Homo sapiens: one gene and its partner. The protein of the gene in region 1 purifies or fractionates together with the protein of each later gene. This does not show direct contact. Each region holds a gene or a part of one and is shown on either strand. Other genes may lie near its edges. The genes, in order: SETMAR and SETX.

Region 1 (4,694 bases):
GCAGGGCTCAGGGCAGGAACCTCTCTTGCTCAGCTCTAACCCTTCTGGTCACCTCTTAGTGACTTTTTCCCCCTTTAAGTCTGCCATTTGAAGGACATTATATCCTAATTACACCTGAATAGAAGGGAGAACTTTGGGTCACATCCTACAGACAGTTCTCAAGACTAATAATTTACATTTATTGAATACTTTCTATATACTCAGGCATTGCTCTAACCCCTTTGCATGTGTTAACTCAATCTTCCCAACTAAGGAAACTTTGACTTGGAAAGGTTCAGTGATTTGTTCAATGGTAACACACTGGAGAGTGACTACATTTTAATTAGGGCAAAATTTTCCATTTGGCCAAGAACAAAATCTAACAGCCACTGCTATTTTGTGAATAGTAATTTGAAAATTAAAGGAAAATTTTTTTAAAGAAAAGCTTTGTTCTTCAAGTGTGATCGTTATTATTCTTGGGCCAAAATGCTTTTCAAGGTACATGTTTTAATCTTTTTTTAAAAAATTATTTTATTAGAGTCAGGGTCTCACTATGTTGCCCAGGCTGGTCCTGAACAATTGGACTCAAGTGATCTGCCCGCCTGGGCCTCCCAAAGTGCTGGGATTACAGTTGTAAGCCACCATGCCAGGCCACATTTCTACATTCTTAATAAAGTCCGTGGAATCTACTTCAAATGCAATTTTAATTTATATTTCAATCTATGAAGATATTGGGTTGGTGCAAAACTAACTGCGGTTTTGGACTGTGAATTTTAAATCATTATAACTAGGCTCAACGCATTTTTATTAATCAAAATAGGAACCATTACAATCAACACATTTTTGCCAACGAGAAATAAGTTGGTTTATTCCTGTAGCGTAAAAATCCGTGCTTTGGGATTCGACGAACTCTTGGAAAGCATTTTCTGCATCCTGCTGGTTGTGGAAGCGTTTTCCCTGCAAAAAGTTGTTGAGATGCTTAAAGACGTGGTAGTTGGTTGGCAAGAGGTCAGGTGAATACGGTGGATGAGGCAAAACTTCATAGCCCAATTCATTCAACTTTTGAAGTGTGGGTTGTGCAACATGCGGTCGGGCATTGTCGTGGAGAAGAATTGGGCCCTTTCTGTTGACCAATGCCAGCTGCAGGCGTTGCAGTTTTTGGTTCATCTCATCGATTTCCTGAGCATACTTCTCAGATGTAATGGTTTCACCGGGATTCAGAAAGCTGTAGTGGATCAGACCAGCAGCAGACCACCAAATAGTGACCATGACCTTTTTTGGGTGCAAGATTGGCTTTGGGAAGTGCTTTGGAGCTTCTTCTTGATCCAACCACTGAGCTGATCGTCGCCGGTTGTCATATAAAATCCACTTTTCATCACACGTCACAATCCGATCGAGAAATGGTTCGTTGTGGTTGCGTAGAATAAGAGAAGATGACACTTCAAAACGACGATTTTTTTGATTTTCAGTCAGCTCATGAGGCACCCACTTATCGAGCTTTTTCACCTTTCCAATTTGCTTCAAATGTCGAACGACCGTAGAATGGTTGACATTGAGTTCTTCAGCAACTTCTCGTGTAGTTGTAAGGGGATCAGCTTCGATGATTGCTCTCAACTGGTCGTTGTCAACTTCTGATGGCCGGCCACTACGCTCCTCATCTTCAAGGCTCTCATCTCCTTTGCAAAACTTCTTGAACCACCACTGCACTGTACGTTCGTTAGCAGTTCCTGGGCCAAATGCATTGTTGATGTTGCGAGTTGTTTCTGCTGCTTTACGACCCATTTTGAACTCGAATAAGAAAATTGCTCGAATTTGCTTTTTGTCTAACATCATTTTCATAGTCTAAAATAAACATAAACAGCAAGTAAGATGTCATTAGCAAAAAAACATAAAGAAATGCTCATTAAAATGGTGTATAACATGACCACATTTAAGAATGTATTCCAATATCAAATACCAAATTCCAACAATGCAAAAACTGTTACTTTTTTTTTTTTTTTTTTTTTTGAGACAGAGTCTCGCTCTGTCACCCAAGCTGGAGTGCAGTGGTACAGTCTTGGCTCACTGCAACCTCTGCCTCCTGGGCTCAAGTGATTCTCGTACCTCAGCCTCCTGAGTAGCTGGGACTACAGACATGTGCCACCACATCTAACTAATTTTTGTATTTTTAGTAGAGATGGGGTTTCACCATGTTGGCCAGGGTGGTCTCAAACTCCCAAGCTCAAGTGTTCTGCCTGCCTCAGCCTCCCAAAGTGCTGGGATTACAGGTGTGAGCCACTGCACCCAGCCCCATCTTTTAAAATTTGAATCTTATAATTTATAAAAATGTTATTTTATCATGGGATAATAGTCAAGTGGAAGTATATTTTTAAATGTTTTCTCTCAAAAGAAGTGTCAACATTCTCAAAAATATGGCAATGAAGCAAACAAATGCAGTTAACTTGCTGCTTAGAAAAGACTTGGAATAAAGACTCTTTGACTCTTACCTTAGGAATCTGGTTTCTAGGATTAAGTGCTATATAATAAACTAGTGCCTGAGGACAAAAAATTTCCAGGGGTCCATATTCAGTCAGTTGTCTCTGGCAGAGGCACTGAGTTGGAGGGGGCTGTTTGTGTCCTTGTCTCTGAATGGAAGATTGTCCTCTGGGAATATCTCTGCTGTTCAATATAGAAAGGCAAAAGGACATAGAAAAGGGTATCTGCAGAATCAAATGGTGAGCCAATCATTTTCCTTCTAACCACTTCCATATTGCGTCTGAAGCAGCTCAGTTATTAGGTGAGCTTGTGAGCAAGAAAAAGCACATTTTGGAGTGAGGGATACAAGCTGCCTTATTAAAAGCAGGACTGCTTCAGAGGCATTGAAGTAATAGAGGACAGTTGGCATGGAGAAATGATTAATTTGGAGGAAAATTTTTGATACTATGTATTTGTAATTTGGGGCATTTTATGTGTACTCTAGTACCATTTGTTCACAGGGAACCATTCCATGTAATGTTATATGAACATTATAAACCCTAAGATACTTAAAAACGACCTAGCTTTATTGAGATATAATTCACACGCTGTATATTTCACTCATTTAAAGTGTACAATGTACTTATATTACAGAGGAATAGTGTTATATATAACATGGATTCCTATAATGTTGAAAGTGCAGGGCCTCCTAGTGGTAGGGTTTAAATGTACTAGAGAAGAAATTAAATTACTTAATAATATCATAGGGGCTCTAGTAATTATTTTAGCTTTCAAAATGTCTGATAAACCTCCACAGTAACTGTATTTTTGCAACATCCCTGCTTTAAGGAAGGTAGTTAGAGATGTTTGCTGCTCTAGAAGTTTAAACGGGATCATAAAACTCCCGTCTCCTTCTGTGGTGTGGACAGGGTTATTTTTCTGTTATTTATACATGAAGTGAGGCTGTTTGAAGTTTTGAAGCATAACTTCACAAGATTTGGAGTACAGCCAAGTATATAATGAAAATGAAAAATTTACAATGTGTCTCTTTTTCTGACTTTTGGTTACAACATGTAAGTCATTTTCATAGTTATATTTTTCACTACTGGTAGTACTTATTAGGGTTTTAGCAGGTGATAGTTAATAATGCCTTTTTCCTTGATCCATGCTTAGAAACAATTAAGTAGGACGCAGGAGTCAGACAGAAATCAAAAAGTCAGCTTTATTACTGTTAAAATTGGTTGGCAAGCAGGGTTTAGGTATGCAGCCACAAGGGTTTCTTGGATCATTATTAGGTTCGATGTTAGTGCTAGAAAACTTACAATAACAGTGACTTAAGCAAGGGAGAGACTATTTCTCACCTGAAAGTACAAAGGTGTCAGATCACGACTGACAGGATGTTCTACAGTACCAGACACCTAGACTCCTTTTAACCTTGTTGATTTTTCTATGCAATGGCTTCCTTTCCCAGGGTCATCCTGGGGTCTAGGATGACTGCTCCAGTTCCAGTCATCATGTATACATTCCAGCCAGCAGGAAGAAAGAGGAGGTGAAGGGCAGGATATCTCCATTTAAGGACTTGTCATTTTTGCTTATATCCTATTAACTAGAACAGTCACTAAGACAAATCTAACTAGGAAAGTGAGTATTCTGGGTAGTCATGTACTTTTGTTAAATGGAGAATTCTATTACAGAAAGGGGAAAGGATACTGATGGACAACTTGCAGTCTCTGCCACATTCCTGAGTTAAACTTATGTAACTAGGCAGAGGTAAAGCTAGCCAACCACTGTCTTCCACTATAGGGAGGGGCAAGCTGCTTATCACTGAACAGACTCACCTCAAGGGTCAATCGCTTGCAGGAGGGGAACACAGAAGGGGCTGAGCCACACATGCTGGGTTCCTTCTCATTTCCACAACTGATGTTCGACTTTTCTACGGGGCAGTACAGAGAACTGTCAAAAGGCAGGAAAGCAGTACATGATTTGGCACCACAGTAACAAGGTTTCCTTAGTTTCCCATGATCTAGCCTTTCTTTGTCTTCACTGACTGTTAGATTAAGATATCTTCCTGAATAATCATAAGAGAGTTCTTCTTCTGGCACAATATCTTTGGCTGCAAAAAGTGCCAACTTAGGTACCATTGAGTCAATTCGGACAGGAATCATCAAAAGGTTTGGCTCACAAGAATGATTAAGGAATCTTCCAATATTTCCTATATAAGTAGGGTCAACAAATGTTTCCATTACCTGCCCATTATAAAC
Region 2 (7,297 bases), on another chromosome or scaffold:
CAGTCTGGGCAACATAGCAAGACGCTGTCTCTACAGAAAAGTAAAAAAAAAAATTAGCTGAGCATGGTGGCACACACCTAGAGTCCCAGTGACATGGGAGGCTGAGGCAGGAGGATTTCTTGAGCCCAAGTGTTCAAGGCTGCAGTGAGCTGTGATCATACCACTGCATTCCAGTCTGGGAGATAGAACAAGACCCAATCTCTAAAAAAATAAATCAAAAACAATGTAAAAATAGGTGCTCAGTTTTAGTGTTACTTGTTAAAAAAAATGTAGCCTTTCTCATTGAATAACCTTGCCATTCAATAACTTGGCATATTTGTCGGAATATCAGTTGATCTTGATTGCAGGTCTGCTTTTAAACACCGTTTTCTTTATCTGTATAGCTGCCTTCCACCAATACCACAGTCTCTTATTGTTGTTTTATAAAAAATACTGAAATTGGATAGTCAGCCTTTCAGTTTTGTTCTTTGTAAAAAGTTTCTTTTTATTGTCATCAGTTTTAGAATCAACTTGTCAACATTTATAAAAATGCCTGCTGGTTTTTTTTTTTTTTTTTGCTTTTTTTTTTTTTTTTTTTGAGACAAAGTCTCACTCTTGTTGCCCAGGCTGGAGTGCAATGGCGCAATCTTGGCTCACAGCAATCTCCACCTCCCAGGTTCAAGCGATTCTCCTGCCTCAGCCTCCCAAGTAGCTGGGATTACAGGCGCCTGCCACGACGCCTGGCTAATTTTTGTATTTTTAGTAGAGATGGGGTTTCACCATGTTGGCCAGGCTGGTCTCAAACGCCTGACCTCAGGTGATCCGCCCGTCTCGGCCTCCCAAAGTGCTGGGATTACAGGCGTGAGCCACCACACCTGGCCTTTTTTTTTTTTTTTTTTTTTGAGATGGATTCTTGCTCTGTCACCCAGGCTGGAGTGCAGTGGTGTGATCTCGGCTCACTGCAAGCTCCGCCTCCTGGGTTCACGTCATTCTCCTGCCTCGGCCTCCCGAGTAGCTGGGACTACAGATGCCTGCCACCATGCCCGGCTAATTTTTTGTATTTTTAGTAGAGACGGGGTTTCACCGTGTTGGCCAGGATGTTCTCGATCTCCTGACCTCATGATCCACCTGCCTTGGCCTCCCAGAGTGCTGGGATTACAGGCGTGAGCCACTGTGCCTGGCGGCCATCTGCTGGTATTTTTACTAGGATTGCTTTGACTCTAAAGATTAATTTGGGGACAGCTGACATTTTAACAATATTAAGTCTTAGGCCTTGAACTTAGTACATTTCTTCATTTGTTCAGGCTGTCTTCAGTTTCTCTCAGCAGTGGTTTGTATTTTTCAGAGTATAGGGCTAGATTCGGCAGTTGGTACTGAACTTTATTCCAGTGCTTTCTCTGTTTTCCTAGTCCCATGTAGTTTACAACCGTCTTTCCCCACTTGTTTGAAATGCGTAGAAGTTGCAAAATTCTTGTATGTACAATCACATGTCACTTAATGATGGGGATACATTCTCAGAAATGTGTCAGGCGATTTCATCATCATGCCAACATCATGAGAAGTAAGAGTGTACTTAGAGGAACCTAGGCGGTGTAGCCTACCACACACCTAGTCTGCCAACCTGTACAGCATGTTACCGTATTGAATACTGTAGGTAATTGTAACATGGGGAAGTATTTGTGTATCTAAACATAGAAAAGATACAGTAAAAATATATTATAATCTTATGGGACCACTGTTGTATATATCCGGTCCATCACTGACCACAACATCATTATGCGGTGTATAACTACTTGGATCTGTTTCCGAATTTTCTTCGGGGGTTTTGAAAGTTGGAAACAAATGAGAGAAATTTAGTTAAAAACCAGAATAGGCCAGGCACAGTGGCTCACCCCTGTAATCCCAGCACTTTGGGAGGCTGAGGCGGGCGGATCACGAGGTCAGGAGATCGAGACCATCCTGGCTAACACAGTGAAACCCCATCTCTACTAAAAATACAAAAAAATTAGCCGGGCGTGGTGGCGGGCGCCTCCAGCTATTTGGGAGGCTAAGGCAGGAGAATGGCGAGAACCTGGGAGGCTGAGCTTGCAGTGACCCGAGATCGCGCCACTGCACTCCAGCCTGGGCAACACAGCGAGACTCCATCTCAAAAAAAAAAAAAAAAAAAAAAGCAGAATAAACCTAAAGGAAAGAAAATTTATTAGCTACTTTTCAATATTATAGTTTTGTCTATTTTGGCCTTATAGCAGTTTTGAAGAAAACTATATTCTATAATTGATATTTTTAATATTTGAAGTTTTTGATTGGATTAGATTACCATTTTAAAGTATATGCAGAGTCCTTTAGTGCTGTGTATTTTTGAACTTAATACAAGGATTTAATTTCTTTTAAGTTAATCTTATTTAAAATAATTCTATTAGAGTTATATGAATTCCGACTTCTTCTTGTTTCATAGTTTATCTGGAAGAATGTGAACTGGCTAAACAGCTTTATCCAAAGGAAAACGATTTGGTGTTTTTAGCTCCTGAGAGAATAAATGAAGAGAAGAAAGATACAGAGAGAAATGACATACAAGATCTCCACGAATATCATTCTGGTTATGTTCATAAATTTCGCCGCACGTCAGTCAGTAAGTAAATAATGAGGCATTGACAGGAAATGTCAGATACAGTCTCATCTAATAATCTACTTCTCAATTGTGTATATCAAGTGTATTTGATAGACATTTACCGAACATGTTTTTGCTATGTTGATTACATGGCCATTCAGAGTCTCTTTTCTAGTTTTTCTAGACTTAACTGGAAAAGACCTTGTATTTATTTTTGTAATGTTCTATCCTTTTGTTACATTTCTTTATCCATCATTGTGTTTGCTATAAAATGGACCATTTGCAGACCATCTGTTGTTTGTTAAATTACATTTCATCCTTGGTTTTGTGGCCAATTACTAATGAGATGACCAAACATAAAACTCACTGTAAGGCAGCTTGAGGAATCTGCTTACATCACTTCCATCCGTTGTATGTTTCTCCCTAGGTAATTTAATAACAAAAATATTAGCCTAAATTTAATGAATACCAGATGTATGCAGTGAGACTTGTCCCTTTTTTTTTTTTTTTTTTTTTTTTTGAGACGGAGTTTCACTCTTGTTGTCCAGGCTAGAGTGCAGTGGTGCTGTATCGGCTCACTGCACTCTCCGCCTCTTGGGTTCAAGCGATTCTCCTGCCTCAGCTTCCCAAGTAGCTGGGATTATAGGCATCCGCCACCAGTCCCGGCTAATTTTTTGTGTTTTTAGTGGAGACGGGGTTTCACCATGTTGACTAGGCTGGTCTCGAACTCCTCACCCCCATCAACCTCCCAAAGTGCTGGGATTACAGGCGTGAGCCACCGCGCCCAGCCGAGACTTGTCCTTCTTATGTACATTTATAATCTTCCCCAAAGCCCCAAAAGGTAGAAGAAATTATTCCTTGCTCCCCAGGAAATCATGGTTCAGGGATGTTAAGTAAACCTATTTTCAAGGCTGTCATCAGTGTTAATTGGTAAGTCCAGAATTGAAGCCTGCTTTTGTTGACTGCAAAGTCCACATTGTTTTTCTTATGCCAAACTGCCTTTTTGGCAATTGCAACTTTTTTAGTCTTAGTTATGTGAAGAGAAGAACATTATTTCATTATTCCTTCTCCTTTTTGCATGATATATTAATATAGCAATAAAGTGTGTCAACATTGTACTGCATTATAACAGGTGTACCATGTTTATTTGTGTGATCAGGGCTTAATTCTGTAGAATATAGGATACATTTAGAAGAGTTGCAGTGAGGATTGATGGCTTACTCTGTGCTTTTGGCTCTTGAAAATGATTACCTTTGCCAAATTTATAGTTCTAAGGCAGTCTCATTCCCTGAACTCCTCATAGATCAAAATCATGTCTTGGATACCTCCATTTGGAAATGTGTTAGACATTTCAAATCCACTAGTCCAAAAGTTAACACTTGATTTTCTGCCTGACATCTGCACTTCCTTCATTCTTTCCCATCTTGTTAATTGGGGCCTCACTTCTTTCAGTTACTCAGGCCAAAAACCTTGGAGTTATCCATGATCCTTACTTTCTCTCACACCTCACTTCTAATTTGTCAGCAGATATGATTGATTTTTCCTTTGCAATATATCCCAAATCCAGTTCCCACGTCTACTAGTGCCTCCTGGTCCAAGCTGTCATTAACTTTTACCTAAATTACTATGGTAACCTTGTAAGTGGTCTTTTTGTTTCTGTACTTTTCTCATTGTAGTTATTCTTTGTTCTGAGGTAAGAGTGGTTCTTTTAGTTTGTGAGATAGAGCATGTTATTTCCCTACACAGAGTGCCCAATGGTTTTCTACCCTGATCCTGAATAGCGTTCAGAGTCATTACTGTGATCTGCACAGCCCTATAAAATGTAGCCCCGTTTTACTCTGAGTCGCTAAGCGTTCTTCTCCCTATTTTTCCTTCTATCCATGTTAGCCTTCTCCCTATTTCTAAAATATTCCTGGCACATCTCTGTCTTACGATCTTTGCAGTTGCTTATTTTCTGCATGTAGTACTATTTACCCTCTGCTGAGTACTGTTTACTCCCTTACTTCAAGTCTCTGCTCAAATATTTCATCAGGAAGACCTTCTCGGACCAGCTTATCTGCCTCCATCCCCATCACTTCCTCCCTTTGTGTGCTTTCTTCAGAGCACTTACTACCACCTGACATATTTATTTGGTTATCTGCCTCCATCTTCTAGAAAATAAGCCTCCGGAGGACAGAACATTACTGGGTTCAGGAAGCAGTCCATAAATATTTACTGGGTAAATTATGTAAATAATATCCAAAAATATGTTAAAAATACCTAATTCTGCATGACCTTTACAACTAGGCAGCATTATTCAGTGATAACTGAAGTTGCTTTTTCTCTTTCTTGATGATAGTGCGTAATGGGAAAACTGAGTGTTACCTTTCCATCCAGACTCAAGAGAACTTTCCGGCCAATTTAAACGAACTTGTGAATTGTATTGTAATCAGTTCTCTGGTAACTACACAAAGGAAGTTGAAAGCCATGTCTCTGTTGGGTAGTCGGAACCAACTGGCTAGAGCTGTTCTGAATCCAAACCCTATGGACTTCTGTACAAAAGATTTACTGACTACAACATCTGAGAGAATTGTGAGTGATGATGTATGATACTAGATAATTTCATGTTAAGATGTTAAAGCATCATATTTTTTAGCTGCTATGTATTCCTATATGTTTACAACAAAAATGTGTTCACGGTGAACAGTTTAGTGTTAGTTTTCTTTAGTATTGCAAAGTATGTAATTTAGGTTAAGTCAGCTCACTTCAGGAAAAGGTACAGTACAATAAGCGTCGAAGGTTGCTGGAAGAGCAACATTAAAATGTTAGGTCAGCAGCCTACTTAATGTGCATTAGGTGAGAAGTCTCAGGTTTAGTGGTGTTAAATTTACATTTGAATGATTGATGGAGAATTGGCCGGTATTGTTGGAAATGCAAAGATGAAGTTGTCAACTGAACATGTGAAGCTGTGTATAAACTCTAGGAAGTTAACAGAGAAATGCAAAAGGAAACTAACTATTTAGAAACTCTAGAGCTGTATGCTATGGCTTTCATGTGCATTATCTCAGTCTGTTCTCACCTCTTAAGGAATCCTAGATTTAATGAGTAACAGAGGCCAAGGCTTGGGTTAGGAGCGTAGTGGCCTAGCTTGTAAGTGCAAGTGAAGCTTACACCCAGATCTTCCCCTGGCATACATGCTTTTTCCACTGTATCACATGTGCTAGGAAATAAATAGTCTTGGGATGTTTTCACTAAGGAGAAAATTGACTAAAGAAGGAAAAAAACAGAGTAGTAAATAGAAGAAAAGTTGTGGATTAGTAAATGCAATTTATTGTGATTATCTTTGTAAGAATAAAAAATAAAAGTACAGTTGTATTTGTAAGTACTTGAAGCGTTACAGACACTAATTAGTAATTAGTAAGTAATTAGCTTTCTTTCCAGTAGTGAACGTGCTTTTTAGATTAAAGGTCACTTTGGTGTCCTTGTCTTGTCTGACCATAACCAAAGCTTTTGTCTCATGCATTGAAAGAAATTTGGACAGGTCTTTTTCATGTTCTTCCTTTCAAATTCCACTACAGAAACAGCAACTCATTCTCAAAAATGTGTTTTTTATATAGATTGCGTACTTAAGAGATTTCAATGAAGATCAAAAGAAAGCAATAGAAACTGCATATGCTATGGTGAAACACTCACCATCAGTTGCCAAAATCTGCTTGATTCATGGACCACCTGGAACAGGAAAATCAAAAACTATTGTTGGCCTCCTCTATCGTCTACTGACAGAGGTAGGTATGGGTGAGGGCACTGATGCTGTTAACTAGCTGTATCATTTTACTTTACTTGAGTTAACTGACATGTAAATAAGTATTAACATGCCATTTCCTCTTTGATTTGTATATATTTTTTATATTGTGTGTAACTGTGTCAGAGAAAAGGGTGGCAGAGGGAGGGAAGGTTATGGGAAATAAAAAGAGGAAAAAACCACTATCTTATGTGAAACAAATCGTAAGGACTAGAATGATGGTCTTCAGGCTTCACGGTAGGTCACGTAGAATGCTGTGAATGCTGGGCTGCATTTTGGTTGGATTGTGGTTTTTTGTTTTTTTTTTTTGAGACAGTGTCTCGCTGTCATCCAGGTTAGGGTACAGTGGCACGATCTTGACTCACAGCAACCTCTGCCTCCCAGGTCAAGTGATTCTCCTGCCTCAGCCTCCCGAGTACCTCCCTAGTGGCTGGGATTACAGGCGTACACCACCACCCACAGCTAATTTTTGTATTTTTAGTAGAGATGGGGTTTCGCCATGTTGGCCAGGCTGGTCTCGAGCTCCTGACCTCAAGTGATCCGCCCGCCTCGGCCTCCCGAAGTGCTGGGATTACAGGCGTGAGCCACTGTGCCTGGCTTGGATTGAGTATTCATTAAAGTAAGTGGATGATAAAGTAAGGCTCAGAGCAGTTATGACAAATTTTTTTGCTGGAGTAATTTTAAATATCAGTGTTAGATGTAGATGCTTTTATTTATTTTTAACTTTATTACGAGAACTTTCAAAAATACATGGAAGTAAAGACAAACTTTAAAGCTATGTAATAGAGCTCACCCATATTTTTTGTGTGTTTGTTTGGTATGTATATGTGGCAAATTGTAGAACCAGAGGAAGGGGCATTCAGACGAAAACTCCAATGCCAAAATCAAACAAAACCGTGTCCTCGTGTGTGCACCTTCCAATGCAGCTG

Evidence for each region.
Region 2: the proteins of SETMAR (region 1) and SETX purify together in Homo sapiens (affinity purification with mass spectrometry; 2 studies listed by BioGRID and IntAct, with this or other methods). This does not show direct contact.

Annotation. Positions count from the first base shown.
Region 1 is NC_000003.12:4,313,339-4,318,032, reverse strand, and holds the end of SETMAR (histone-lysine N-methyltransferase SETMAR), read right to left. Parts: coding exon 4,272-4,694; coding exon of another isoform or gene 4,194-4,271; exon of another isoform or gene 3,638-4,193; intron 2,638-3,637; coding exon of another isoform or gene 2,545-2,637; exon of another isoform or gene 2,466-2,544; intron 1,822-2,465; coding exon 787-1,821; 3' UTR 768-786; downstream 1-767. UniProt on the Homo sapiens protein: Protein derived from the fusion of a methylase with the transposase of an Hsmar1 transposon that plays a role in DNA double-strand break repair, stalled replication fork restart and DNA integration.
Region 2 is NC_000009.12:132,295,941-132,303,237, reverse strand, and holds part of SETX (probable helicase senataxin), read left to right. Parts: intron 1-2,434; coding exon 2,435-2,608; intron 2,609-4,925; coding exon 4,926-5,158; intron 5,159-6,183; coding exon 6,184-6,351; intron 6,352-7,209; coding exon 7,210-7,297. UniProt on the Homo sapiens protein: Probable RNA/DNA helicase involved in diverse aspects of RNA metabolism and genomic integrity.